Linked DNA regions of Homo sapiens. The protein of the gene in region 4 interacts with the protein of the main gene of each other region in a biochemical or structural test. Each region holds a gene or a part of one and is shown on either strand. Other genes may lie near its edges. The genes, in order: NFIX, NFIC, HNF1B and TBR1.

Region 1 (7,023 bases), on a different chromosome or scaffold from region 4:
CACCCTGACCCAAAATGCAGGGTAAAACTGGAAAAGCGAAGAGAAGCAGAACTACTTGGAACACAAAAGGAAAAGGAGATTTTACAGAGTTTTTTTTTTTTTTGGTTTGTTTGTTTGCTTGTTTAAGACCTCTTCCACAGCAACGCTGCTCCCTGCCATGCCTGTGCCCCGAGAAAGCCTCTCTGCTCCCCAGTGCCAGGGCTGTGGGCATCCATCCTGAGGCCTTGCCACTTTAGCTGAAATAAGGAGAAGGGAAAGAGCTCAAGGAATCTCGTCCTTGTTTTCACTCTCTATGAAATCAAATTACTTTCATACTGACAGCCAAATCCCAGCCAAAACAGCTCCCGCCTGAGTATTTAGGCCACAGAATCTGCCCACTACTGTCTTCTCTCCTCTTTTCTGTTCATTCAGTCTCATATCCCAGGGTTTCACATGCCCCTTCTCTCCACCGGACTCCTGCCCATCCCGCTTGTACCAAACCCAGTTTTTCCTGGGACTGGAGGTGAAGCTGCAGTAAAACTAGCACCTGCCCCTCAATACTTCTTCTGACTCATTTTAATAAGAGCAATTACTGGTTTGCTGTTGTTGTTCATCTCAAACTCTCACCATCATGGATAATTCTGGGGGCATCATGTCCCCAATCCTAAGACCTGCAGCATCTTTCTGATCAGATAAGTCCTCCAAAGATGGAGATGCACAAAGTCGATACCATGGCCAGGGGGCAGAGGAGGAAGAATAGAACAGGTCGGGGGAGACAGAAGACAGGAAAAAGGAAAAGGGCCCATAGAACCGTGTTGCAGGCCCCGCAGGACGGGCATACACCAGTTAGGCCCATGGCGAGTTATCGCTTGGAAATTAGAGGAACAATAAACAGAACAAATGCCAGCAAGGAAAATAAAATGAGAGGGAAAAATGGTTGAGAACGACCTACCCGGAGTGTGGACAAAGTAAGCCAGATAAAGATCCAGTTCTTTGATTGTGACTCCAATGTGATGTGGCTGGACGCACAGGCCGGGGTTCGAGCACTGAGGCGACTTGTAGAGCCGCTCCCCATCAGTACTTTCCAGGGGGATCCCCTTAAACAAAATCACCATGACCAGGTCCAGCCGCCACACCTTGTCAGCCTGGCGCAGGCAGTCAATCCGCCGGATCTTGCCCTTCTGGTCGGGGTTGGAGAGCACGCAGCAGGGGGGCTTCTTGCCCGTGATGGTCAGCACGAAGTCCTCGCGGAACTCGGGCCGGATGTCCTTGCGCAGCTTGGCCAGCAGCCGGGATGCCCACTTCTGCTTGATCTCGGGCTTCTCGCCCAGCAGCTCGTCCTTCACCGCCCGCTCCTCGTCCTTCGACATCCGCTTTTCATGCTTCTTGAAGTACTTGCGCTTCCGCGCCTGCAGGTTGAACCAGGTGTAGGAGAAAGCGCGGACGTGAGGCAGCAGTGCCTCGATGAACGGGTGGAACTCATCCTGCAGGCGGCAAGCCGGGAGCATGCGGGGCGAGGGAGGACGGGAGGAGGGGAAGACGGGATGAGGGGGAAAGAGAGAAGGAGAAAAGCAGCGTTAGAAGGGGGGGCACAAGGAAAACCGCCTTCTCCTCCTCCTCCCTCCCCCCAACAATTTTCTCTTGCGATTGTTCTACGAAAGTGTGGTTTGAAGCCACCACCAGCTTCGCCAGCCACTTGCTCCCATCTCAGCCTCAGCAGCCAGACAGAGGCACCGGGAGCCTCTACACACACCTATTCTCTCTCTCTCTCCCTCACTCACTCACACACACGCGCACAGACAACGTTGCCGTCCACACACACACGCTGCTGGTATCCCCGCCAGGCTCTGTCGCGCCCATGACATCTCCATGTTCTATCGCAGCCGTGAACTCCTGTCAGCTCGCCCCGGCACAGTGTCCGTCTGCACAGACGCCCGTGGACGCACACGCGGGGGCGTGCGGGGCCGCCTCTGGTCCCCGACACCGGTCGATTTTTGGCCGCCCCCAAGAAGACAGAAAATGACATCCACGAGCAAGCGAGTGAGGAAACAGATCAGGCTTCCCTCTCCCCAGGCTGTTTTCATTTTCTTTTCTCCTGATCCAGTTGGAACATCCACCCCAACATTTTTTAATCAGACCTAAATCCTAAATATGTGATTTCAGCTTTGTTATCGACACCAATACTAATGTTAATCACAGTAATAATGAACAAAACACTTCTTGTTAGCACAAATAAGGTGCTTGTCTCGGCCACATTAGGGTTAAAAGCTACATGGGTCTTCTTGCGACCCCTTCCCCAGCCTCCCACAACCCCTTCACCCTTTTTCCCACTCAGTCAGGTGACAGAAGGATGGGCTCTCTCGGTTTTGTTTGGTTTTTTTTTTTTTTTTTGGTTGTTTGCTTGTTTGAAGTTTAAATAATAATTGATTTCTGTTTACAAAAATAAAACTGGAAAAAATTAAATAATTACCATTGATCTGAAGCACCCGGCAAAGCCCAACGCCCGATTCTGAGATTCTGGACTCAAAAGAGTTGTGAGTTGGGGGCGGGTGGGGGGAGGGGGGAGGAGGAGGAGCAGGGGAGGAAGGTAAATGTTTTAAAGGGGGTTATTATTGGTGTTCTGGGGAATAGGGGCCGGGCTTGGGTGGATTCTCAAACCCTTCCCCCTCCTCCCCCCCCCCATGCTCCATTGCACAGAAGGGGGAAATTAATATTTTTTTTGAAAAGGAGCAAAAAGAAAGAAAGGTCAGGGATAGCAAGCAGAGAGAGGGAGCGAGCCGGCTGCCACACACGCCAGGTAAACAAAAGCCAACAAAATTTTTTTTTCAATTTCTTCCCCTGTGCATCCTCTTCCAGTTTAAAAAAAAAAAAAAAGAAAAAAATGCAAAATTTAAAAATCAAAACCAGCCTCCCACCATCTCCCCACAACCAACAACGCACCCCACCCCACCCCCGTGCAAAACAAAAACAAAAACAAAACCCAGGAGGGAAAAAGCGGCAGCTGAAGAAAAAGGCTTTCGGCTTTGGCAGCGGCACAGGGGTGTAAACTTCGAGCTGCCTGATCGGAGGAAAAGGGGGAGCTCGCAGATTCCCGGGGAAGAGGACGAGTTCTGACCGGCTGCAGACCGTTGCTGGCAGACGCGTGCAAAAGAGAGAGAGGGAGCGAGGGAGGGAGGAAAGGAAGAAGGGGGGGAGGGAGAGATCGAGGATCGAGGGAGGACGTGGATGGGATGGGGCGTGTGTGTGAGTGTGCGCGTGTGTGTGCGCACTGGTTGGGTTTTTGGGGTGTTTTTTTTTTTTGCTCCTTTTCTCTCTCTCAAACTCCCTCTCTCTCTCTCCTTTCAGGCTCAATCCCCATCCATTTGCTTGTGCCAAGCCAGTAAAAAGGGGTGGGGGGAGAAAGAGACAGAGAGAGAGAGAGAGAGAGAGAGAGAAAGAGAGAGAAGGATCCACCTATTTGGCAAAGAGACATCCACGAGCAGCCAATGGCTGCGTCCAAGGGGAGGAGGGAACCGGGCGAGCAGGGAGGGTGGGGAGAGCCCCCGGCAGTTGGAGACCAAAAACAATTTGCCCAATCGACAAGTTCACGTCTAATGAACAAGCAAAGTCCAGCAGTTATGAATTTTTCATTCCAGGCTCCCACTCGGGTCCATTTGGCAGCAGCCACCCAGCAAATCTGGGGGTGGGGTGGGGCATTGGGGGGGACTGGGATTGTGGAAGACTCGAAATTTTTTTTTAAGCCTGAAAAATAAATAAATAAAGGCCTGACTCCCGGCGGGCTGGCGGGCGGGAGCCCCAGAAGGCCTTGGGGAAGCAGCTGCGCCTTCTCTCTGTGTTTTGGTTTCAGTCTTTCTCTCGGGCCTGCACACTCTCTTTTTCTGTTTCTATTTCTTTCTTTCTTTTTTTTTTTCTTCCTATGGAGCACACAGGGGCGAGTGGAAGTTTTCCTCCCCGGCCACATACACACGGGCCTGCGGTGCTATGAATAGAAATAAGAAGAAAGAGAGCTCAGAAAGTGTCCATGCCAGCAGTACTTCCAGGGCAGGGATCTGGTGCCCAGGGTACTGCCACCTTGTGATGCCCCCAGGTCTGGCTGCTGAAGGAGCACTCTCAGACAAGGGGGAGGCCAGCACCCCACACGTCCCTCCCTTCTCCCCCAGCCCCCAGCAAGCTCAGCCTCCTCCTTCGGCCCACACCCAGCCACGCACACTCCATTAGCGGTGACGAGGGATGCCAACGCAACACAGCTCGGCTCGAGAAACTGCAACAGTTTATTAAAATAGCCTCCTGTCACAGCACTCCGCCTGACAAGCTCTACACGCAGCCACAAACAACAGCCAGACCCGGGGAGAAGTGACAAAGGCAAAAAGATGGACACTACCTCTGAGCAGAGGCAAGGAATCTGACCAACGCCCCTCACCACTGCACAGGCATTTAATTCTCCAGATCTGCCCTCTCCAGTTGACCTGAGATTAGTTTTCTTACCTGTCTCCCAAATCAATTTAGACTAAAGAGCCCAAACCCTAGCAGTGCAAAGTGCAAAAGTATAAAATGAGAAACCCAAATGAAAAGAAAAGAGCTAAGAAAGGACACAACAAAAAACAGCAAAGGGCTCTATCAAAAACAGGCCACCTGGGGGAAATCAAGTCACAGAGAAGTGACCCACCGGGGAGCCCCTGCTCTGGTCCTCCACTTGGGGACCTTCCTCACAGCAAGCAGAAAGGGTGAGCACTGGGTAGGGGAGTCCCACTTCTGAGGGGGTCTCTCCAGTTAGAGCTATGGAGCAGCCATGCTTGAGGCCTTCGAAACACAGTAAGAAGGAAATAGATATGACATAAAAGGAAAAGCAGAGGAAGAAGGATGTGGCTGCAGACAGGGAGAAAGGGATCCAATTCCACTCAGAACCCCATCCCTACAGCCGCCCTCTCCCTCAGCGAGGCTCAGTCCTCAGCTGGCGACGGAAAAAAGGTCACTGCTCACTCGTGCCCCTTTCTTCCCCAACTGAAACCCTGTGCTTTGTGGCCTTTATGTTGGCAGAAAGGTTCCCGGAAGAGCACCTGGGGCATGCCAAAATAAAACATCCAGCCCTGGGCTGGCGCTGAACCCTGACAATGGGAGAGGGGCTGCCCAACACCTGGGACCCCAGTCTGTGCCCTGAATTATCCATCTCAAGTGAACTGAGCTCATGGCTGATCCCTGAAAGAAACGGTTAGAGGTGAGAGTACAGAAGGCAGGTGGTATCAGAGACAGGCCTCTTAGGGTGGTGTCCAATAATTCACATCATGTTAATAACCAGCTTCAGTCCAATCAGCCAAAGATGTTAGCTCAGAGACATGACATAAGGTACCAAATCCTGCCTCTCCACCTTGTGGAAACAATTTTACCTTCTAAAGTCAAGATGAGGTCATTAAAAACTACAAGTGAGTTTATATTTGGCATGGAGGTGTTTTTCTTGTATTCTGATTTATACTAAATATTAGACACCAAACAGAAAATGGCCAACACGAGCCTCCTGGAGAATCCTGGCATGTTCCACTTCACAGACCACAGTGCCACAGTAGAAGAGACATGCTCGACATGGGTTGAATCTGAATCTGGTGGTACAACTGGGTCAGGGATAGAGGTGGGGGCAGCAACAGTCCCACAGCTGGGAAATGACAGATGGAAGGATCCATGTAGAAGTTAGGGAAACAGGACAAGATGCACGACTGGCTCCTGGAGAGGGGTTGGGGGTCAAAACTCCACGGACTGGCGGAGAGATCAGAGGAGAGGCGGCAGAAGAGTGTCTCAATAGAGCCTCAGGGACCTACAAAGAGCCCCAAGCACCCCCTCAAGGCTCTCTTAACAGAAGAAGCAACAGGCCTTTCCCAGGGCAGAAAGTTGGAGGAAGAACAATTGTCAATTGTCCTTCTCCTGCCAGTGGCTATAACCTTGCAGGTGGGCAGAAGATTCTCAGGCAAATACTTTCCCCTCACCCCATTCTCTCTATGGGCTGCTGGCTCCCAGTGGAGGAGGCCTTTCTGGAGGAGTGGCCAGGATATTCTGATGCTTCGGGAGATGAGAAGGTCTCTTTCTCTATTTCTCTTTCCTCCCTCCCTCCCTTCCTCCCCTCCTATTTTGGGCGCACACAGAGGAATTGCTCGGGTTCCATTAGAAACATTTCAAGCACCCTTCACTGCGGGCCCCCTCCTCCTGCATGCCACTGGTGGCGGCCATCAGCCCAGACACGCCCCTCATGAGCCCTAGACAAAAGGAAACTGTCCCCCTTTTGTTAAAGAGTGGAGGCTCCTGTTGGAAGATTACCTGTTCCCAGCCCAGCCTCCTTCTCTTCTCCCCTCCAGCCCCAGGCAGGAGATCAGACCGCTTTACATCCTGCACCAAAGACCAGAATCAAGACAAAAAATCCCTCATACGATTCAAGGCTTCTCCAGGTCTGAGTCACTGGCAAGTGTAAGAGTTCAGGTGATGGAAAGAGCAAGGGGACATGCAGGCCACAGAGTAGAAGGACATGGGAAATGGGGAAAGGAAGCCACTGATGCTGGTAATAGGAAGAGAAAAAAAAAAGACAAGGGGGGAAAAAAGGAAAAGCAGGAAACATTGTGGGGGAAAGGTATTTCCCCCATTGGAGAGAAAAATCATCGAGAAGCCAGAAATAAGACTTTTTAAAAATTCATATGGGTTTTTGGTTTGTGGAAAGGGATTTTGCTGCCATTATGGAAGAAAAGCCTCTGTCTTTTATTGTTGAGTACTATTTGGTAAAAAAAAAAAAAAAACAAACAAACAAAAAAAAAACCAGCAACAGTTTTCACTGAAACATTTCTAAAATACATACCCATGCCAGTTTCAGCCATCACTAGGAGAAATGTACCCCCAACAGAAAAAGACTGAAAGGGCCACGGAGAAAGAGAAATAGAGAGAAGGAGAACGAAAAAAGAGAAAAAAGCCAAACCTGGAGAGAGAGTGCCAAGCTAGGCCCACAACTGAAAAGAAAGAAGGACAAAGATGGAGGGAAACAGAACAGCAGAGGAAGAAAAATAAGAAGAC
Region 2 (7,470 bases), on a different chromosome or scaffold from region 4:
CCAGGGCCGCCAGCACCCACTCCCCACTCGGCGGGCCGGGCCCGGGTGGCACAGAGCGGGCTGGCACCGAGATGCCCCCCACCCCCCGCCAGCCTCGGCTCCCGAGAAGGATCCGGGTCGGATCAGCTAAAAGGGAGCTATTTTCGGTTGGGCTCAGGTTGTAAAATTAGCTGGGAAAAGGGGGAGAGGGAGGCCCAGAGACAGAGAGAGACAGAGAGAGAGGAGTAAGGAGACACATGCAGAGATAGAGAGAGACAGGGAGAGAGGGGGCAAGGGGAGACACGCAGAGACAGAGGAGAAAGGGAAGGTGAGACAGAGATGAAGAGACAGACAGACATATTGGAGAGAAACAGAGACAGAGAGGAAGGGGGCAGAGAGACAGAGACAGAGAAACAGACAGAGACACATCGGACAGACACACAAAGAAGGCAAAGGGAGGGAGAGACAGAGAGACAGAGACACATCAAAGAGACATGCAGAGACAAAGAGGAGAAAGGGATGGTGAGATAGACATGAAGAGACAGAGACAGTGGGAGAGACTGAGACATCAGAGAGACAGAGGATGAGAAAGAGAGACACAAAGAGACCAACAGTGACTGGGAGTGAAACAGAGGCGGGGAGAGACAGAGATGGAGAGACAGGGAGAAACAGACACACACACACACACACACACACACACACACACAGAGTCAGAGCAAGACAGAGAGAAAGAGAGAAAGACAGACAAAAAGAGACCAAGATGAGAGAAACGGAGGGGACGTGATTCGGGAAACTGAGTCAGGCAGCCAGGACTTGGGTGGGAGGCTCCTGCATGGGGCACTCAGGGTCCTTCTGAGTCCCCCAGCCCACCCCACTGGCTACCCCAGACCAGGCTGGGCCTTGGGGGAACAGTGGGGATTACATTCAGGCTGAAGACAAACTGGAAAGGGGGTCCCCAGCTCCACTACAGGGCTGGGGTGGAGGGCGGGGCAGAGAGGAGAATCGCAGGGGAGGAGGGAGCCCCCTGCACTTGGGACTCGCTGTCCCCACTCTGGCCTGGGAGCTCTCTGCCTCTGTCTCTCTGCCTGTCTCTGTCTTCTCATCTCTGTCTCTTGCACGCAGCACCCCTGGATAGTTTTTAGTTTTTAGCCTCTCCGTTTTTTGGTTTCCACAGACAGCCCTCCTGGCTGGTCCTTGCCCTGTTCCTGGAGAAACTGAGGCCGAGTTAGCAATTCTCTGAGGCAAAGCCTGGACTGGGGTTCTTACTAACCCCCAACCCACCCCAGCAACCAGGATGTCTCCCAACCAGCCCTGATGGGGGAATTCCAGGGTGCACAGGCAGCCTTCCAACCTCCCCAGCCTGGAACAGCCTCCCCTCCGCTCAGCCCTCCCAAATGGCTCCTTCCAGCTGGTGAGGACAGAGCGGGGACACCTCAGTCACCCCACAAGCCCAGAGACTTCAAAGGCTGCCCGAGGTCACACAGCGTGCCCACTCGAACCCTAGTTGTTCTTGGAGAACTTCAAAGAGATGCCTTCTTCGGGAACCCCCCCCCCAAAGCTGCTCAGAAAGGGAAACTGAGGCTGGGACAGGGACTTACCCAAGGTCACTCAGGGGATCACAGGTAGGACAGACCTCAGACCCCCTCAGCACCAGCTCCCACATTCCCTGTCGGCTGCAGGGGGCCGGTGAGAAAGACCCTACCAAGGAGCATGCCTGGCGTGGGGGGTCCCTCACTGCACCATGCCCTGGAGCGGAAGCCGGGGACTCATATACTCCCCACACAGTGCTTCTTAAGACGGGCCTGGCCCTCGCTGGAATCGCACCCCCCACGTGCCGGGACTTTACAGTTTGCCCGCCATACTGTCCCCTCTCCAGAACCGGCCTTAGCCGCACCTCACTTCAGGGGAAACTGAGGCCAGAACCTCTCCAGCCTAAAGACACACTGCGTAAGGAGGAAAGCAGCGGTCTAGAAAACGGAACTTGCAGACCTCGGGGTCCCCGGGAGCCTGGGCTGGAAGGAGTCCCCGGGGGGAGCCGCCCCCTCCCCACACACCCCCTCGGCCATTGCACAAGGCTCGGCCCCGGGGCAGTCTGGGAGTGCGGCCAGGGGTGAGAGGCTACGGGAGGGGGAGGGGGAGGGGGAGGGGACGGGGCAGGTGCCGGGCTGGCGAGGGCGTCCGCAGCGCCGCAGTGCCCGGGCCAGACCCGGAGCGCCGGGCCTCCCGCTCCTCCCGGCGGCGGCTCCAGAATCCAGAATCCAGAATCCAGAATCGATGCAGCGAAAATACCGGGACGGTGCTGGGGGGCTTGCAAAGGAGGGGGGACCCAGCCGGGCCGCCGGAGCACCCTTCCCCCTCCTGGGCCTCCAACTTCTCCTGCCCCCTCCCCCTCCATGCACACGTGGGCCAATAACGAGGGAAAGGCGACCGAGGGCCAGGGCGGCCCGCACAACCTTGGTGGGGGGACACGGGGAAAACACATGAGAGGTCCCTTTCTCTCCAGCTGGGGAGACCCAGGGTCCAATCACGACCCCCTAGATTCCTCTCAGAGGCAGGCGGGGGGCTTCCCGCAGAGCCCTTGCTGGAGGGGGGCCAGCCCCCACCCCGACCTTTCCGAGTGTCGGGGCGGGGGTGCGGAGTGCGTCGGTGTGTGGGGGGGGGACGCAAATCTGCAGACCAAGCCCCACATCCGGGAGAGGTCCCGAGAGTCGGGGTTGGGGGTGCTGGGCGGGAGTCCCGCGTAGGGGGTCCGCGGTAGGTAAGGGTGTGGGGGGGGTACCCCAGCCTGACCCATCCCCCCACCGGACCCCAGCCCTCGGCGCGGGGGGCATCCCGGGCAGGGATGGCGGGAGGGACGCGCGCCTTTTTCGTCCCGCCTCCTCCTGCTTCAAAACTCCGGGGCTGGGATGCGGGGGGCGCGGGGGCGCCGGCGGGGGGCCGGGCGAGGACCGTACCTGGGTGAGGCAGAGCGGGGACGAATACATCCCGGGCGCGGCGGGAGGCGCAGGGCCGGCCGGAGCGGGCGCGCTGAACTTACTGAGTCATTTTTCCAAACCACCCCCCCGCCCCCCCCAACCCCCCCCCCCGCCCCGCGGCCGGCGCGCTCTCCTCGCCGCCTCCTCCCTCGGTCTCCCTCCTCCTCCCTCCTGCTCTCCCTCTCTCGCGCCGCCCGCCTCGCTCTCTGTCCCTCTCTCCCTCCGTCTCTCTCTTCCTCTCTCCCCCGTCTCTGTCTCTCTGTCTCTCTCTCTACCCTCTGACACCCTCCCCCTCCCACCCCGAACCTCCCACTTCTCAACACCCAACTTTCAAAGAAACGAGGGAAAAAAGGGCGCGAGCGAGAAAGGAGAGCCTCCCCCGACGTCTCAGGACCCCCCCGCTCCTCCCGTATTTACGCAATGCCCCAGGGCACTAGACCAGGACCCCAGGACTGCAGGGCGACCCCAATTCGGATCAAGCGGAGAGGGGGGACAGGGTTGTTTCTGGACATTGAGGGGCCAGGGGTGGATTTTTAAGGCCCCCCCTCCCCACCCCCCCATCACCCCCGAGCTGGCCGGGAAGTTGGAGGAAAGAGCCAGGGGGGAGGGAAGGAATGAAGAAGTGACGTGCGCAGAGGCCGGCCAGCGCGCCTCTTTCCCCTTAAAGATGTACGACCCTGGGTGCACGGTGAGCTGGTCCCACAGCACCCTGGCTCCCTTCTCCCCCCAGAGCCAGGCAGGGGCTGCGGGTCCCCAGCTAGAGGGGCTTGTGTGCAGCTGTCCCTTCCTTGGCCAGAAGGGCCCAGGCTAACACGGGAGGCTCCAGAATTTGCTCTCTTCACCCAGCACCCAAGGGGCAGGGGAGGGGTGGCCTCGCCTGTGTGTCTCTCCAGCACCCCAGGAGGACGGTGTCCAGGCGGGATCTCCAGCTGGCCAGATAAACCCTTGCAGCCTCCCCCTGGGTATCCAATAATTTCCACCTGCCTCAGGGGTGTGCCCTTTTCACAGATCTCAAGACTGAGGTATGGCAAGTGTGGCTTGGAGCCAGGCCATCTGGACCTGGAGCCCACATTCTGTTCTCCTTCTAGACGTAACAGGGCAGAGACCTGGCCTGCCTCCGTCTGAGCCCCCAGGGCATCTGATGACAGGGCCCCAACCCTCCCCCGGTTCACTCCCTGGATCCTCCCAGGCTAGCTCAGAGGCTGCTGTGTCTCTCATTCCCATCCCAAGGGTTCTCCCCTATAAAGTGGCTTAAAGATGCCCATCCTGTGGGATTGCTGGGGATAAGGACAATGACCTTAGCAGAGCCTTGACCTTGGGTCAAATGTTCACTAAAGACACATTCTTAGAAAGCTTGGCCATTTCACCTCATCTCTCTGAGCTTCCCAAGGACAAATGATACCCTCTCACCAAGCTGGGGCAGGTGCCCCAGGCCCAGGGGCGCAGAAGATACCAGCACCCATTATCCTCAGGCATTACAGGAGAGGAAACTGAGGCCCAGAGAACGGAAGCCACTTGCCCAGGGTCTGACAGGTAAACTAGGAGGGAGCAGAATTCCTGCAGCGTAGGTTCCCTAGGCCCCCCACAGGCTCCCCTCTGCATGACGGTGACATTATTCAAACAGTGCTTAGTACATCACGAACGGTCCATAAATGTGTGTGTCTGTGTATTTTAAACCCACTGTGCAGCTGTGGGGAGCATTTGAATTAAATGGTGAGAAGTGTATCTGGAAATCCACATACCAATATAACGTGAAGCAATTTATTTTATTAAAACACGCTAGGGACACATACAGGGTGAAATCTAAAATTCACAGATATTTAAAAGTTGCAGTTGACTTCAGACACTCCTCCTAGACTTCCAGACCCCGTGCCTTCCACCCTCCCTCCCCTGTACAGACCACCCTGCCTGCAGCCTTCATTCAGCAGCTTAGAATCCTTTGGAAGGTGAAGTTTAGAGAGCAGAGACTGCCCCTCTTGGAACCTCGGTTTCCTCATCTGTAAAATGGCTATAGTAACAGGATGCATCTTGGGAGGTGGGGAAGGTTGGAGTCTTTACATAGCATGTGGGAAGGCTGTGTGAATATTATTGGTGGCGGTAGCTGCAGGGAGAAACTTCTGCAAGTGTACGAACAGCAGCCTATATCCCAGTTTGGGTGGCAAGGGACCCCCGCAGCACACACAGTTGGTTCCCTAAATTGCCGCGTGGGCTCGCTGCTTGGGTCTATGTCTCCTCCAGTCAGCAGCTTCGTCTCTCTGCACCTCGGCTCTCCCTCTGTGAAATGGGGCGACGCCAGCTCATAACCCTCCAGGTTGTAGGCAAGTCAGCAAATACCTGCCCGTGGTTACAACAGGGAACTGTACGTCATAGTTTCTTTAAAAAGGCAATTGGTAGATTGGGACCTGCATGTGGAGGGCCCGGAAGATGGGTGCATGATTTAGCTCCTGGCACTTTCGAGCACAATCTGGCTCATTTTTTTTTTTTTTCAAAGCACTCTCTCTACAGTTATTTCACTCTTCGGCATCTCTGTAACTGTCCCAGATACAGGAGCACAAAAGAGTTGACTGCCACCTATAAAACTAATGCCCACAATTTGGAGGCAGCCATGCTGTCCATCTGTGGGGGACCGGTTTAGTAATCCCAACACAGGCTGGGACACTATGCAGCTGAGTAAAACCAGTGGCTCCCAACTGGTTATGTCCCCAAGAGACAAGTGGGGGGACAGAAAGCTGGAGAGCTCTCCCCCTTGGCACTGTGGACACTGGGGCTGGATCGCTCTCTGGGTTGGGGCCGTCCTGGGCCCTGCAGGGTGCTGAGCAGAGTCCATGGCCTCCACCCACTCCATGCCAGGGGCACCCCCCAGTCGTGACAACCACAAATGTCCTTAGACATGGCTAAGTGTCCCATGGGAACAGAATCAACCCTGGCTGAGACCCCACTGCTGTAGACCCAGCAAGGAAATTCAAGATCTCATTTAGGGTTTTAAAGAGTACACATGTATTTATACAAATATACATAGTATCCTTTACATACACACACATGCACACACACCCACACACACACATATCTCCTTTGGCCGGTTGTAGTGGCTCACGCCTGTAATCCCAACACTTTGGGAGGCCGAGGCAGGCAGATCACTTGAGGTCAGGAGTTTAAAATCAGCCTGGCCAACATGGCGAAACCCCGTCTCTACTAAAATTACAAAAATTAGCCGGGCATGGGCGAGGGTGCCTGTAATGTCAGCTACTCGGGAGGCTGAGGCTGGAGGTTCGCTTGAACTCGGGAGGTGGAGGTTGCAGTGAGCCAGGATCATGCCATTGCACTCCAGCCTGGGCAACAGAGCGAAACTCCATCTCAAAAAAAAAAAAAAAAAAAATATATATATATATATATATATATATATACACACACATACACATACATATACATATGTCTCCTTTATGGAAATACACGAGTATTTCCACAAGTACATCCTTTATGGAAATATACACATATGCACATGTATCCTCTATAAGTGTGTATTTCTCAGTCCTGCAAATGCTCCAACTATAGATGGTAACATTCTGGAGCGGGGTTCCACCCAGGAATGGGGGTGATCAGAAAGATTGGATTTTTTTTCCTCTGGATACAGTTGTATCCTCTTCATATGATCACTAATGGCTTCAGTAATTAAAGGAAAACTTAAAAAGTTGAATGCAATTCACAGAGCAGCTCAGGCAGGGTAGACAGGAACCCCCAGCCCCCCATGGTAACCCCACAGCCACCACACCCAGAGAATAAAGGACATAATCTTGCAGGCAAATGATTACACAGCAGTGCAGTGTGCAGTCAGCCTCCCCTAGCCCCGCACCTGCTCAGCAAGGGGCTCACAATGTCAGCTCCCCAGGAACCTTGCAAGGGTCCCATGTGGTCCCATTTTACAGATGAGAAACTGAGGCTGTAAGAAGGGATGTTAAAGTCAAGTGAGTTAAAGGTCAGATAGGCCGTTGAGGCTGGTACAGATAGACACACACACCACACACTACGACCTACAGAGACACACAGACACACATCGTGCAGACTCAAGCAGCTGCAGACACAGACTCCACACGACACACAGCTACATACACAAAGACACAAATACACGCACAGACTCACATAAAAACAGACCCATATATCATCACAGCCTTCCCCCCACACCTGACCTCAGATACCTCCTCAAAGAGGGGCGAGCAGAGACACACACACACACACACAGACCCACATGGCACACACACAGCCACAAACACACCCTCCCAACTCCCCACAGGACGCTTCTTGACAAGCACAACGCATGGATATAGCTGCCCCCACACAAGTGCAGACACAACCACAAACACATGGGCACTTGTCCACAATCACAGACACACTCCACACAAAAGCACACACTCTTACAAGCACACACACACCCACAAGTGGAACCCCCCGGTATTCCCATACAGGCACACACAGAGTCACATACGCACCATCACAATGACACACAGCACGCCACCTCCCT
Region 3 (7,023 bases), on a different chromosome or scaffold from region 4:
GTGGAGTGGCCCATCTCGGCTCACTGCAACCTCCACTTCCCGCCTCCCGGGTTCAAGCGATTCTCCTGCCTCAGCCTCCGGAGTCGCTGGGATTACAGGCACCTGCCACCACGCCCAGCTGATTTTTGTGTTTTTAGTAGAGATGGGGTTTCACCATGTTGGTCAGGCTGGTCTCAAACTCCTGACCTCAAGTGATCTGCCTGCCTTGGCCTTCCAAAGTTCTGGGATTTCAGGTGTGAGCCACCACACCTAGCCCACAGAGCGTTTTTTTTTTTTTTGAGACGGAGTCTCGCTCTGTCACCCAGGCTAGAGTGCAGTGGCGTGATCTCTGCTCCCTGCAAGCTCCGCCTCCTGGGTTCACGCCATTCTCCTGCCTCAGCCTCCCAAGTAGCTGGGACTACAGGCACCCGCCACCACACCCGGCTAATTTTTTGTATTTTTAGTACAGACGGGGTTTCACTGTGTTAGCCAGGATGGCCTCGATCTCCTGACTTCGTGATCCGCCCGCCTCGGCCTCCCAAAGTGCTGGGATTACAGGCGTGAGCCACCGCACCCGGCCTTTTTTTTTTTTTTTTTTTCGGTATTCTGCACACAGTTACGTTTCTGGCTTGGTTAGTGACCCTACCTTGGCTGTGGGCACTGAGGTGGGAAGAGTGCCATGCGGCTCTACAGACAGAAGCCACCCCTGAATGCTGGGCTCCAGCCTGCTGTCTGCCTGAGTGCATGACTCGGGAGCCCTGTCACGGCACACACGCCATCCTGGCAGCCTGAGGTGGGGACACAAGTCTTTGACCCCAGCATCGTGCATCTCAGGCACTAGCACAGCAGCCACCTCTGTTTCTAGTTCCAGGGCCAGGCTACATCTCACTGCCTCTTAGGGGGAATGCCCTGGTGTGTGAGATCAAAAAGAAAATGATTTCTGCTGCCTGCCAGTCTTCTCACTGCCCTTGTTTAGCCCTCTCTAATGTTAAGAGTCATAATGAGGGTAGTATGGGTTATCGGGAAAGGTGTCTTTATACATTCACTCCTTTCATCCTCACATGCACCCTGTGTGGAAGGTCCTATTTCTCCATTTTGTAGGCAGGAAATTCAGACTCAGAGAAGTTATGTGAATTAGCCACAGTTATAACCTTACTGGTTAGAACCCAGATACATAACTACACTCAGAGAAAGAGAAGCCAGTCCCTGGGCTTGGGACAAGGACCATGTTGAGGAGCCCAGAGTGAAAATTAAAGCAGAAGGGCTGGGCACAATCTCACAACTGTAATCCCAGCACTTTGGGAGGCTAAGACAGGAGGACTGCTTGAGACCAGGAGTTCGAGGCTGTAGTGAGCCAAGACTGCACCACTGCACTCTAGCTCGGGTGACAGAGGTAGACCCTGTCTCTCAAAAAAAAAAAAAAAAAAAAAAGACAGAAGAAAGGCAGCCACTGATAATATTCAGTGTCCCATAACTGTTGCTCCAGAAACAGTAATAGGATCTATTACACCGCAGAAAGATCCACAAAGCCCCCAAACAAAACCTCCATCTGCAGCTGGTTCTGGGGACTCGACAGTGACCCGATATCCTTCCTACCAGACAGTAACCTCCCAGAGGGCAGGACGCGCAGCTCGTACATCACTAGCATATTCCCAGGACTTGGTAAGCATTCAACACATCGTAGTGCTGTGGGAAAGTATGGAGTGGGAACCAGCAGGCCTGAGCTCTAGTCCTTGTTTTGCTACCATTGCTCTGTGTCACTTTGGCAAATCACTGCCTCTTTCTGGGCCTCAGTTCCTTTCTTCAAATTCCCTCCAAATTCTAACATTACAAGATTTTTAGAAAGATCCAGACTTCAGGGGCACCCCAGAGTATCCACTTCCCATGGGACACGCCCTTCCTAGACTCCAGTCAGAGGAGTACACAGGCTGTGTTTTCTGCCCTGCTCCCTGTCCCTCCAGCCCTAGCTCTCTGGGTCTCCTGTCAGCACACAGGATGCCTAAACCAACGACCCCGTGGTGACCTCAGCACAGCCCTTGCTTGTCAGAAGGCTGCTGGGCCTTTGTTTGGCTTCCAGGCTCCCTGACTTTGGTGTGGAGATCACAGGTCCCAACACAATGGCCATTGTCTTCCCAGTAATGCCCCTTGCCCCAACCACGCCCCCTGTAGCTCCCAGCTTCAGCTCCGTGGATCGCTGTGGTGGGCAAGCACACTGGTACTGCTCAGTGCCAGCCATGTGCCATTTGCCACAACCCTCAGAACCCTGCTTTGAATTTCCCTAAAGGGGCGAAGTTACTCTGCAATCAGGCCAGTCTTTGCCTAGGGGCTTCTCTGCCTCTTAAGTAACCAAGACTTTCTTCCTGTGTGGCTGAGCCTCTCTCCTCTGTGGGAGTGGGACCTACAGAAACCCCCAGCACTGGCCCCACCTTCATGCTGGGCACTGTCAGGCTCCCAGAGGCCCTGGAAGAGGCAGTGCTATGGGAGGGCACAGCAGGCATGGAACAAATGCTTGTACACCACCCAGCTGATGGCTCCGAGCCTGTCTTGGTGGCTTTGGTCCCCTCAACACTTGGGTCAGCCCCCAGCCCTCAGGCCTTTCTCATCAGAAGGGCAACCGACAGGTGAGGGGAGCCAACAGGTTTCAGAATCACCCCTGAGTTAGAAACAGTGTTTGGCTTTCCTTTCGCAAGCCCTTTTCTTGGAGCAGGCAGGAGGCTGCTACACTTTGTCCTCATGGGCACCACACAGACCCCAGTGAGCACATCCATTCTAGGAAGCCAGCTTTGCCAGAAGAATGAAGGACCAGAAGAAGTGCTCCATCCCAGCCTGTGCCTAACACAGCGCTCAGCATGAGGTGTGCTTTCCCCCAAGGAGGCTGTAGGATTCCATCCTGACAAACCCAAAGCCCACAGCAGAGGCATTCTAATCCAGGCCAGGGCCCAGCACACAGGAGCACTCAATCAAGCATGATGGAGCAGGTACTCGGTCAGTTTTTCCCAACTCATTGCTGCAAAGATTTCAAGTGACTGACCCCCACCAACCCTGATGACACACGGAAGCCAACAAGCAGAGGCCACCAACAGAGTGGCCGTCCCCAAAGGCTACTGAGCTTCTCCTGAGGCAGCCGGACCGAGCGAGGGGCAGGATATGGCCAGAGATGGAGGAGGTGGCCGGAGTGCCATCCTCCAACACAGTGAGGGTTGCCACGCCATCACGACCCGTTTGCCTGCGGTTTGGATCTGGCCCACCCATAAGGCAGCCTCCTCAGTGTAGAATGACCGCTGAGTCAGCAGCCACACAGGGAGAAGAAGAGGGAAGGAGACAAATAGGGTAAAGGGCTCCCTGGAAGCCGAGTGAGCCCTCACAGGGCAATGGCTGAACCAGGAGTTGGAGGAAACTGATCAGAGCCACACATTATTTCCAGGGGAGTATATTCTGGCAATGAGAGAGCGGCCCTAGGATCATCTCAAAAGCGTTTGCTCCTCTGAAAACCCTTAAACCAGATAAGATCCGTGGCAAGAACCAGGATGGTTGGGTTGCCGAGGCAGTGAGGCCCAACCTTTGCTTACCTGACAGCTTGTTTGGAGGAGAGGAGCTGGGCTGGTGGTGGGGGGAGCCGTGGGAGAGCAGAGGGTTCAGGCTGTGAGTCTGGTTGGAGCTATAGGCGTCCATGGCCAGCTTTTGCCGGAATGCCTCCTCCTTCCTGCGGTTTGCAAACCAGTTGTAGACACGGACCTCAGTGACCAAGTTGGAGCCCAGGCCGTGGGCTTTGGAGGGGGACACCCCTCGCTGCAAACATTCTGCCCTGGGAATGGATGGAGGGGAGATGGTGAGTGAGGGGGGGCGGGGGGACTTGTTGGTGCTTGGCCAAAAACACACAATCACAGCAGTCTTGGTTGGGAGTATGAAGGGGCCGTGGGCAGAATGGAAGGCTGGGGAGGAGAGGCCTATGCAGAGAAAAGGCCAATCCATGGAGTGATCTGATGAAGATGGCTGAAGTGGGCCTGAACGCAGGGACAGAGCAGGCTATGCCGCCCTGGGAGTCAGGGGCTTAGGCTCTGGTGTGGCTCTCGAGGAGAAGAGAGCAAGCCGGGGACAGGCAGTCCAGGGGAAGGTCCAGATGGGGCTTCCTTATTTAGCCATTCTTCCCACCACATAAAAGGCAAAGCCCTTCGCTGGCTCTGTCTTGAGTGGCTTCAAAGCACTTCGAGAGGATTTCTGGTCTTTTGGGGCTTGAACTCCCTGAAAGAGTGCCAGGAAGCAAGATGCTTTATCCCCTCCAAAAGGCAGGCTGGGTGGGGTACAAAGCAGGGTGCATTGAGATGGCCAGTCTCTAGCTTTATCAGGGCTGGTGAAACCTCAAAACCAGGTGCGAGAGATTCTTAGACACTACTGGGTGCTGCAAGGCATCTCATTAGTCGGGGTATGGAGCACAGCCTGAGGACTCAGTGGCAATACAGGCCTCCCTGCTTCCCAGCCTGACCTCCCTGGCTGCATTCTTCCCACAGCCAAGGCCAGCCCAGCCCAGAGACAGAGAAAGCGCACACAGGCCTTGGCCAGACCAAAGAGCTGAAGTTTTAGAAAGTCAATACTGGAGTCAGGGAGAACAGGGCAGGAATGAAGTAAAAAGATTTCCCAAGGCTTTCCAATCGTTTAAAAAAAAATAGCTGGGCCCTGTGGCTAGAGCCTGTAATCCCAGCTATTTAGGAGGCCAAGGCAGGAGGATCGCTTAAGCCCAGTTCAAGATCTGCTGGGCAACATAGCAAGACCACATTTTAAAAATAAATACTTAAAATAACACAGAGTTGTTTTTTTGTTTTTTTGTTTTTTTTTTAAATAGAGATAGGGTTTCACCATGTTGCCCAGGCTGGTCTCAAACTCCTGGGCTCAAGCAATCCTCCCGCCTCGGCCTCCCAAAGTGCTGGGATTATAAGTGTGAGCCACCGTGCCTGGCTGGTAGTTAACAAGTAAAAAGAACTCTGTTGAGTCAGCGGGGGCAGAGTGGACTGAACAGATCTGACCAATTCTTACTCTCCTGCCAAGTTTCCTTTTGGACCACTGCATGTCTGACAATTGGTAGAGGCCAGATCTAGAGTCTGTGGCTAAGGGAAAGTTTTACCCTGGCCTGCAGGGAGGTCAAACACACAATTTCGCTTCCCAAGTATCATATTTTAAATTAGCATTCTCCAGAGTATCTTCCCTGGAAGAATAATTCATGGGGTTGTTTGTACTCTACCGAAGATTCCATAGTTAACAACCAATTCAACAAAGCTAAGTGGGTTTCTTGACTGCAGGGCTTCTCGGAACCTTTAATATATGTTGTGACTCTCTAAGGGGAAGTATCCATATGCTGATTCTCAGACTTACTGATTAATGAATTGATATTGGGGTTCTGTGGAACATACTTTGAGAAGCTCTGATTTAGCCACACTTATCTGTATAACTAGTGTCTCAATATCCCAGGACCGAGGGGAGGGTTCCTGGGTCTGTGTACTTGCCCACCTGCCCAGGTGAGCTTCTGGTGGTGTTACCTGTTGCATTCCTCCACTAAGGCCTCTCTCTCTTCCTTGCTGGGGTTCTTTTGCCGATCGTAGGCCTGGTACAAGATTTGCTGGGACGCGGGCCCCCATTTGAACCGGTTGCGGCGCATCTTCTTGTTGGTGGGCTCAGAGCAGGCATCATCGGACTGCCCAGGCCCATGGCTCTGTTGACTGAACTCTGGAAAGAGAAACAGCAGCTGATCCTGACTGCTTTTGTCTGTCATATTTCCAGAACTCTGGACTGTCTGGTTGAATTCTGAAAAGAGAAAGGAGTAGATTTGATAGGGTCTGTAGCCTTCACTCAGCAGACAGACAGACAGACAGACAGACAACGGACGAAGACACCTTTATTCCCCTCGTCTAACTAAGCTTTGCAACCTTCTCTCACTGCATGTGGAGCTGGAGATGGGGAGCCCTCAGCACAGGCCCTTACTGCCCACCTCAGTTGCTCCAGCAAAGCCACCCTTTTCCTTTCTTTGAAGGAGCTCAAACATAGCCAGCTATAGTTTTAAGAAAATTATTATTTTTTCCCCTTTGGCTCACTGGCCTTCAGAGATGAAGCAACACTCTGCATCCTGAACTCCTGTATTTGATGTCAAGTGGGTGAGCTCAATCAAGTCTCACATCCAGGGGAGAACTGCTCAAAGGTACAATTTACACTTGCACAAAATATTCAGAGGCTGTAGATAGCACTCCCCACCTCTCCTCCCTCTTCCTATATCCTAGGTATCTACATTATAAAGTCAGGTTTTTAGAAAAACCCCAAACCTTTTGGAACATGCTTTGAAATAAATATAACTGGAGCTTTGTATTGGAAAAAGAAAATGTGCTTTAGATCTCAAAATAATTTCAAAGACTACAAACACAGGACCTGTCTGGGAGTAGTGTTTAATTAGCTGGAAATGATGCTCCCTGTCTGTCCAATTCCTTGAGTCCAGGCATACTGTGACCATCAGGAGATTTTTGTGGAATGAATGAGAACCAGCAGCTCGGCCCAGAGGTGATGCCTTAGCCCACATGGTTTAATGAGATTTGATATCTACATTACCGAAGAAGAAAGCTTTGCTGTCCTCGTCTTCACATCTGCATGAAGCAGGGCTCATCAGGAGTGATTAATTCCATTTTAAAGATGAATAAACATGGAGGCTAAGCACTCTGCTGAGCAAAGACACGTAATACATTCATCTCCTAGCTCTGGGTCCCTATGTTCTGGATCTTAATATCTTTTTTTTTTTTTTTTGAGACAGAGTTTGCCTCTTGTTGCCCAGGCTGGAGTACAGTGGTGTGATCTCGGCTCACTACAATCTCCGCCTCCCGGGTTCAAACAATTCTCCTGCCTCAGCCTCCTGAGTAGCTGGGATTATAGGTGTGCGGCACCATGCCCAGCTAATTTTTTGTATTTTTAGTAGAGATGGGGTTTCATCATGTTGGGCAGGCTGGTCTCAAACTCCCGACCTCAGGTGATCCACCTGCCTCAGCCTCCCAAAGTGCAGGGATTACAGGT
Region 4 (7,023 bases):
AAATCTGCGGTCAACATCCTATTTTGACATGCATTTAAATTACACCCTACTTTTGGCCAACGCCTCCCGCCTTACTCTGTGAAATTTAAAGAAATTCTTAACTCCTTATTTAAAGAACCTCCTTTTCCTGTTCGCATTATTTCCAACTTCAGAGAGAATCAGATAAATATGATGAGAAAAGTGCATATGTTTTCCTGAAAAAAGAAAATGAGCGCAGAAAAGTGAGACTTGGCTCATAGGTAGCTAAATAATTATAAATAAGAAGAAAAAAGTAGCTCCTGGAAGTACTATAAAACAAATTTAAGGGGGGAATGGGAGGTGGCTTCCATTAAACAGGCTGCCCATATTGGAGTGGGGACGGGCTAGTCTTCCTTAACCCTTAAATATCATCACCTATAATAATTAAATTATTTTCAAACTGTAAACTGCTTTCAAACACCATAGTTAGCGTTTTTACCAGGTTTATTTTACTTGTTATACACAGACGATACAAACGAGCAAAAAACAAAACGTTTCTCAATGGAGTGTGTTCTTGTATAAATTATTCAGTTCACAGACAAAACGAAACAAATATAAAAATCACAACATTAGATTTACAGAAGAGCCAAAATATACACACGTTTAGACCCTGAATTCCTATTAGGAAAAATCCCCCCATGGACTGGAATCTAGATTGAATATTGTGTATGATGCATATTTCACATTAATTTTTAAATACAAAAAAGTATAGGTTTGCTACACAACATTAGAAATCCTACTAATCTATTTCCAGGGGGATTAATGCTCCTTATCAAATATAACAAGACTTAGGGGAAAATCAGTCTTACTTGCATTAATGCTAGTGTTCTCCCAAGGAAGTCAAATTTCAGCTGTTTCTAGGTGGTGGGGAAGTCATTTTCAAAACTAAAATGCAGTAAAATATACAACTCACACAATTCATCTTCACTAGACTACACTATAGTTACCAACAATTCAGTCATCTATATCATTAATAGAGTATTCATTACAAAGATTTACAGCATATAAAGGTGAAGGGGTACTGAAAGATATTCAGAAACAGTTTGTCAGCATATTTGGCACCTGCACAGACCAGTAATGGATTTGGCACTTTGGGGAAAAACAAATAAGGCAAAATAATATTGCTGATGTCGAGCTATTCTATTTAGAAGGTGGGGGGAACATACAACTCCAGTTGACTTTGCTTTGCAGGCATCATGCCACTTAATCGACTTGCCTATGAACAGACACCTATCCTTTAAAGGTGTTTGGGTGGATTCTCCTTAGCTATTTGTGTGCATTAGGGCACATAGTAATTATTTCATGCAACGGATTGAGGAGAAGTGGGAAACCCATCACTACTGAGTATTTCATGTTTCTAGAGCCTCTTAGAATATTATCTCACAAGAAAATTAAAAGAGAGAGAAGAGAAAGTATGAGAGGAGAGAAAGAAAAGCAAAGAAAGGAAAGGAAAAAAAGGTTAAGCATGAACTGGTTTTGTGCCTTGACGAGAATAAAAACTAGCCATTCGTTACAATAAATTAACACTATGTACAATCATTTCACAGGCTTTGTTCCACTAAAATTATTAACATCCCTACCATCCATCCATCCATCCATCCACTCGGGGATAAGAAAGGACGCGCTGGGTGGGTCCAGGTTCTAGAGTCAACATCCTATGGTTAATGTGGAGGCCGAGACTTGGCGGGTCGGAATCGCTGCTGCCTGACAGGACTGCCCAGGTCTCCTAAAGGTGAAGAGTTTCATTACAAGAAAGAGAAGTAGGAGGTAAGAGAAAGACGAGGGGGAGGGGAATTGTAGGAGGATAACTCCACAGAAGAAGAGTAAGTAGGAAAACCAAAAGGTTTACAGCAAAGTTGAAGGTCGGTGAGCTAATTGCAGAGACTGCTGTGCAAAAAAGGTTAAAATCACGCTCGGAGACCTGCACTTATTCGCTGCAGACGGCCATCGAGGGTCAAATAAAATGAGTGGGTGCGCAAGGAGGAGTGTGGGGAGGCGGAGCTGGGGAAGAGCTGTGAGGGGCTGGCTGGGGGTCCGGGCCGCGGCGGGGCCGGGCGGGCAGGGGCGGCCTAGCTGTGCGAGTAGAAGCCATAGTAGCCGCTAATGTCCTTGGCGCAGTTCTTCTCGCAGTCCCGCTGGGCCAGCACCTCGCTCTTGAGCGGGGACGAACTCTCGGACACGGGCGTGTCGGCCGGCGAGATCCGCCTCCGCTTGGCCTGCTCGTAAATCCCCGAGTCGCTGGAGTCGATGGACTTGATCGAGGAGGGCGTCTCGATCCAGCTGGAATCGGACAGGTCCTTGGGCTTGGCGTCCTCGGCGGCGCCGGGCGGCAGCGGCGAGCGCTCGGCGGCCAGGCCCTCGGCCTCCTCGCCCAGGTAGGGATTGGCGCCGGCCATGCGCGCGGCGGCCGCGGCGCTGTTGGGCCAGCAGGGCAGCACCGAGCCCGACTTGGTGCCGCAGTACTGCGGGGGACTGCGGGCGCCCCAGCCCGACGGGTCGGCGTAGTAGCCGAGCGGGCGGCCAGTGCAGCCTGCAGCCTGCAGCGGCAGCGCCTTCACGCCCGCCGCCGCGTAAGAGAGCAGCGTGGCCGCGTTGCCCGCGAAGTCCGTGGCCGTGTCATAGGCCGAGGCCGCGAAGTCCAGCCGGTTGTTGGCCGGCGTCACAAACCAGCGTTGCGGCGAGGGCGCGCCCGGGTCCTCGGCCTGCTGCGGCGACAGCAGCCCGTTGGTGTGCGGCACGCTGCGGTCCGTACCCGGCCCGGGGCCCGCGCCCGCGCCCGGGTGGAAGCGGGCCTTGGCGTAGTTGCTCACGAACTGGTCCTGCAGGAAAGAGCCGGCCATGGCGTAGCGGGCCCCGGGCACGATCTGCGAGCGCGGCGAGTCGTTGGGCGAGGGGGTCAGGCGGTCCATGTCACAGCCGGTGTAGATCCTGCGGGGTAGGGAGAGAGAGAGAGAGAGCCGAGGGGTGGCGCGGAGGTCCCTTGGGGTGGGGGTGGGGGCAGAAGGGAAGGCCACCTCCACTTTTCGCCCACCCCCACACCCTCCATCTACAAACTTGCAGTCCAGGATTTCCTGGAGAATACAAGAGGCCACAGACCTCTATCATTCCCAAAATAAATCACGGAATTATAGAGGAGCCAATCTGTCTATGCAGGGACCTGAGCAAGATACAGACCATCAAGGGAACGACTTCCCTCTTCTCTTGCTCTCTCTCGTCAAGTGTACTGGGGTACTGAGAGAGGGGCACAAGCAAGGACTTTCATCCCACTTCTCCAACATATGTGTGCACATTAAGGCAGATTTACCTAGGGAGTAAGATGCTCTTTGCCCAGTGGGCCTTTCCTCTGCGGTCAGTTTATGAGTGAAATTTCTAAGCAAGGTACTCACTCCTCCACCCTTTTAAGACCTCCTGTGTCCATTTGATTGTTCAGGTGATATCTCTCCTTTTTCTAGATTGTTTCAGAAACCCCTAGGAAAAAGCCGCGCACGCAGTAATCATGAAAGACTGGCCTTCACCCGTGTTCTGGAACCCGAGGTTTGCTGCTGGAAGCCTCCAAAGTACTTAGTGTCTATTGTTTCCCCTGTGTGAAACTTTCACTCCCACCTCTACTAATACAAACAAGAATTACTACTCTGAAACAGTAGTCATCAATCAGAAATATTCTCTTAAGAGAAAAGGTGTTCTTTACTCTGACCTTCTTTTCCTAGCTTTTGGTCCGTTACCCGCAGAAACTTCGGGGCAAACCTACAGTGTACTTATCAGCCTACTCCATGCAATGGACCACTAATAATAGCTAACCTTTACGGAGCTCGACTATATGCCAGGCACTGTGAGCTAGGTAACTTTTATTATCCCACTTTACCGATGAGGAAATTGAGGCAAAAGGAAGTTAAATAACTTGCCCAACCAGCGACAGTGATTGTGTTGTTGGGAATTACCTTAGATAAAATAATCAAAGATTAACTTTAGGCCCTGGGCCTAGAAAATCCCATTAGAATTGAGAGGAAACCAAGGGTTGGATGAAGATTGGTAGAAGTGTTTTCTCATACACATGCACACATGCCTCCCTTTTTATTTAGCTCACACATAAATGTTTTAATCTTTAGTCAACAGACTGTTTTGAAGGAGAGCCTCAGTCTTGTCAGACCTTAATCCTTTGGGGAGGAGATTCCCTGGTGAGTGGCCAAGCAAGCTCCTAGTACCCCATGAACCCTTATACTTCTCCCTCTTTCTCCAAAATTGAGCCATGTCCAAGTAACCAACGTAAAAGGGGAAAGGAAGAGTGTCATGAACCACTCAACTCTTCTCTGTCCCCTAAAAATCTCAGGTTTGTGTGTGTGTGTGTGTGTGTGTGTGTGTATAGATAAAGAAGCTTTTATGAAAGATTTAAAGTGATTTAAGATCAAAGAGGAGTGGCTTTTCCAACAGAAGGCAGCCAGAGGAGGAGGGGCATGTGAGAGTTTTGCTGTGGCTGCTCAGGTCCGTTCTGTTTAGTGCACAAAATTTCCCTTCTGAAATTGAATTCCAGTTTCAAATAAGAGAAGTAGAGGGAGGCAGGAAGGGAACATAACTAGCAAGGTGCAAATATCTTCTCTGTTTATCACCACAATATTTTAAAAAGAAAAAAGCAGTCCGCAAAAGATACAGTTTAGATGCCTATCCAGGTCCCACCCACTTGGGATTACTGAATTGATTTGTGCAAAATAAAATGCTTTTGAACAGATGTTCACAACAGAATTAAAATCTCAAAATCTACAGGACTCTCCTCTAACATCTCTAGTCTCTTGAGCCATATACTTTCCACTGTGCTGGGCACACCTTTTTAGATTGTGAGGAATAGAGTAGCCAAGTTTTTATTCTGGGGAATCATATTGATGAGACTTGGTTCCTTTGGAGTACTTTTGAAGAATATATATGGTGGTTATAGGCAGTAATATCAATGACTCTCTTTTAAATTATTAGAAAATATCAGGAGGGATGGTTGGTATCTGCTTGGAGATGGAATAGAGGCAGTCACTTGTCTCTTTCTCCACACATTTAATCTATGCTAGTCAAAGGCAGCTTCAACTTTTTAGCTCTGTCTCAGGCGCTCAATGTAAGCCACGAAATTAAGATGTATGTACCCTTTCCTTTTATGGTCAGAAAACGTGGGGGAACCCCACAATCCAGATTTAGATTTATGACACTATCTGAACTCTTAGGCACTATGGACCCTGAGTGAGAATTGCAGAACAAGCCCAGAAAGCATTCAGTTTACACCTACTGTTGGCCCCAGAGAACAGCCTTTTGATAGAAAGGAGGGAGGTAAGGGAGGCCTAAAGAAAAGGGCACCAGCATGTTTAATTAAAACACACCTAGATACAAAACAAAGAGGAAATATTTTTCTTTTGAAGCTTATAAATAATACACAGCAACACCGTCTGAATCTTTCCGAAAGCCTAAAATGACCATAACAGCGGTTCTGCTCATGAACTCGCCTGTGGTGGGTGCACATTTGTATTCAGTCCGTAGCCAACTTGCACAGGAAATGCTATTATACAAAACTTGGAAATGGGTAAATAAAGGTCGCATATGCTAAGGAGACTGTTAACAACTGCCAGAGGAGCCACATGCACTTTTAGGCAGAATTGCCCGTTTCAGACAGACATAGACAATCTGAGCTGAGCATCTGCAGCGCCACATACAGTACTCGCACCCGAGAACCAGGGCAGCCTCCCCAGCCAGCCAGCCAGCCCCAGAGGCCCACCAACAACTTTGTAATCCACAGGAAAGTTAAAATTAGGTGGAGGAAACCTCTGACCAAAAACCACGCAAGTACCAAGCCACAAGGTCACCAGAGAGAAGGGGAGCCAACCAAAAAAAAAAAAAAAAAAAAAAAGAAGAGGAAGAAGAAAGAAGAAAGACGAAGAAGAAGAAGTCCTCTAAAACAACCTTGTCTTCACACATTCCAGCTTTCAAAATCCTTGTACATAATAATACACCTTTGACCTAAAGCCCAATTCCACAGCTATTTGAAAAGGAAGATACAAAGTTACTTACGTGTCATAATTATCCCGAAATCCTTTTGCAAAAGGGTTGTGATCTATTTTCAGTTGTGTAATCTGGCAAAGAAAAAAAATGAATGTTATCTCACCTTTTATACGTGAAGACTGGGTGTTTGAGAATATATCATCTGCCACTTTTACAGGGGCTTAAGGCCTACAATTTATTAAATAGCAAGGTTTTCCTAACTGAAAAATTTGAGGGATTGAGTGGAAAGGAAAAAAAGAGAAAGTATCATGAAAGTTATGAGGAACATGTTTAAATTAATGATACCTATAGCCAAAGAACTGCTTTCAATTAGCTCTCCTGTGTTTTCTAAATTTGTTCAAACTCACATTTTAAAAATGCTTGTTACACACAATGCACTTGTTCAGACAAAAATCTTTAAGGAGAACTTGAATTCATCACTAAATGTTGACTATTTTAAGTATTTTATATTTTAAAACGTTTGTCGCTTCTGACTCACAACCTGAGAAACCACAAGTTGCATCTTAAAATCAGGTTGGATTTAAAAGCATGTTTTAATTTCTGATATTATCATTTAAGTAAAAAAAAGAAACAAACACAAAAACCCCTATCACTCCTAGTAGTCAAATCAGCCACTAAAATCTGTTTTTGCAAACTTGAAAAATCAGAAGTGGTTCAAGTGCTAGAAAGCTCAATCCATAGCCCTCAGTAATTTGATTTATTGTAGTTTTCACATATATGAATGTGTATGTTCTTTTGATCTCCCAGAACAGTGATGTTTGTTCATTTCAGCCATCAGTTCTGAGATGAAAAAAAGAGAGAGAGAGAGAAATTTTTTTTTAGATGCCAAAGCTTGCCAAGAATAAAATGCACGGGGAAATCTGCTTGTTTTCTAAAGGAAAGAGAGAATTTTTTTTTAAAGTAGATTTTAATCTGTTCTAGTTCAAAGCCCAAATTAAAACTCCCAAAAGAAGAGTCTTTAGAAATCCTGGCCAC

What was found.
Region 1: the proteins of TBR1 (region 4) and NFIX form a complex in vitro, tested with the Homo sapiens proteins (one study listed by BioGRID).
Region 2: the proteins of TBR1 (region 4) and NFIC form a complex in vitro, tested with the Homo sapiens proteins (one study listed by BioGRID).
Region 3: the proteins of TBR1 (region 4) and HNF1B form a complex in vitro, tested with the Homo sapiens proteins (one study listed by BioGRID).

Annotation. Positions count from the first base shown.
Region 1 is NC_000019.10:13,019,461-13,026,483, reverse strand, and holds part of NFIX (nuclear factor 1 X-type), read right to left. Parts: intron 2,513-7,023; exon of another isoform or gene 2,453-2,512; coding exon of another isoform or gene 2,450-2,452; intron 1,906-2,449; exon of another isoform or gene 1,851-1,905; coding exon of another isoform or gene 1,765-1,850; intron 1,706-1,764; exon of another isoform or gene 1,488-1,705; coding exon of another isoform or gene 1,464-1,487; coding exon 932-1,463; intron 1-931.
Region 2 is NC_000019.10:3,362,130-3,369,599, reverse strand, and holds the start of NFIC (nuclear factor 1 C-type), read right to left. Parts: upstream 3,018-7,470; 5' UTR 2,964-3,017; coding exon 2,934-2,963; intron 1-2,933.
Region 3 is NC_000017.11:37,728,047-37,735,069, forward strand, and holds part of HNF1B (hepatocyte nuclear factor 1-beta), read right to left. Parts: intron 5,776-7,023; coding exon 5,511-5,775; intron 3,785-5,510; coding exon 3,549-3,784; intron 1-3,548. UniProt on the Homo sapiens protein: Transcription factor that binds to the inverted palindrome 5'-GTTAATNATTAAC-3'. Binds to the FPC element in the cAMP regulatory unit of the PLAU gene. Transcriptional activity is increased by coactivator PCBD1.
Region 4 is NC_000002.12:161,419,292-161,426,314, reverse strand, and holds the end of TBR1 (T-box brain protein 1), read right to left. Parts: intron 6,120-7,023; coding exon 6,058-6,119; intron 2,947-6,057; coding exon 2,088-2,946; 3' UTR 445-2,087; downstream 1-444. UniProt on the Homo sapiens protein: Transcriptional repressor involved in multiple aspects of cortical development, including neuronal migration, laminar and areal identity, and axonal projection.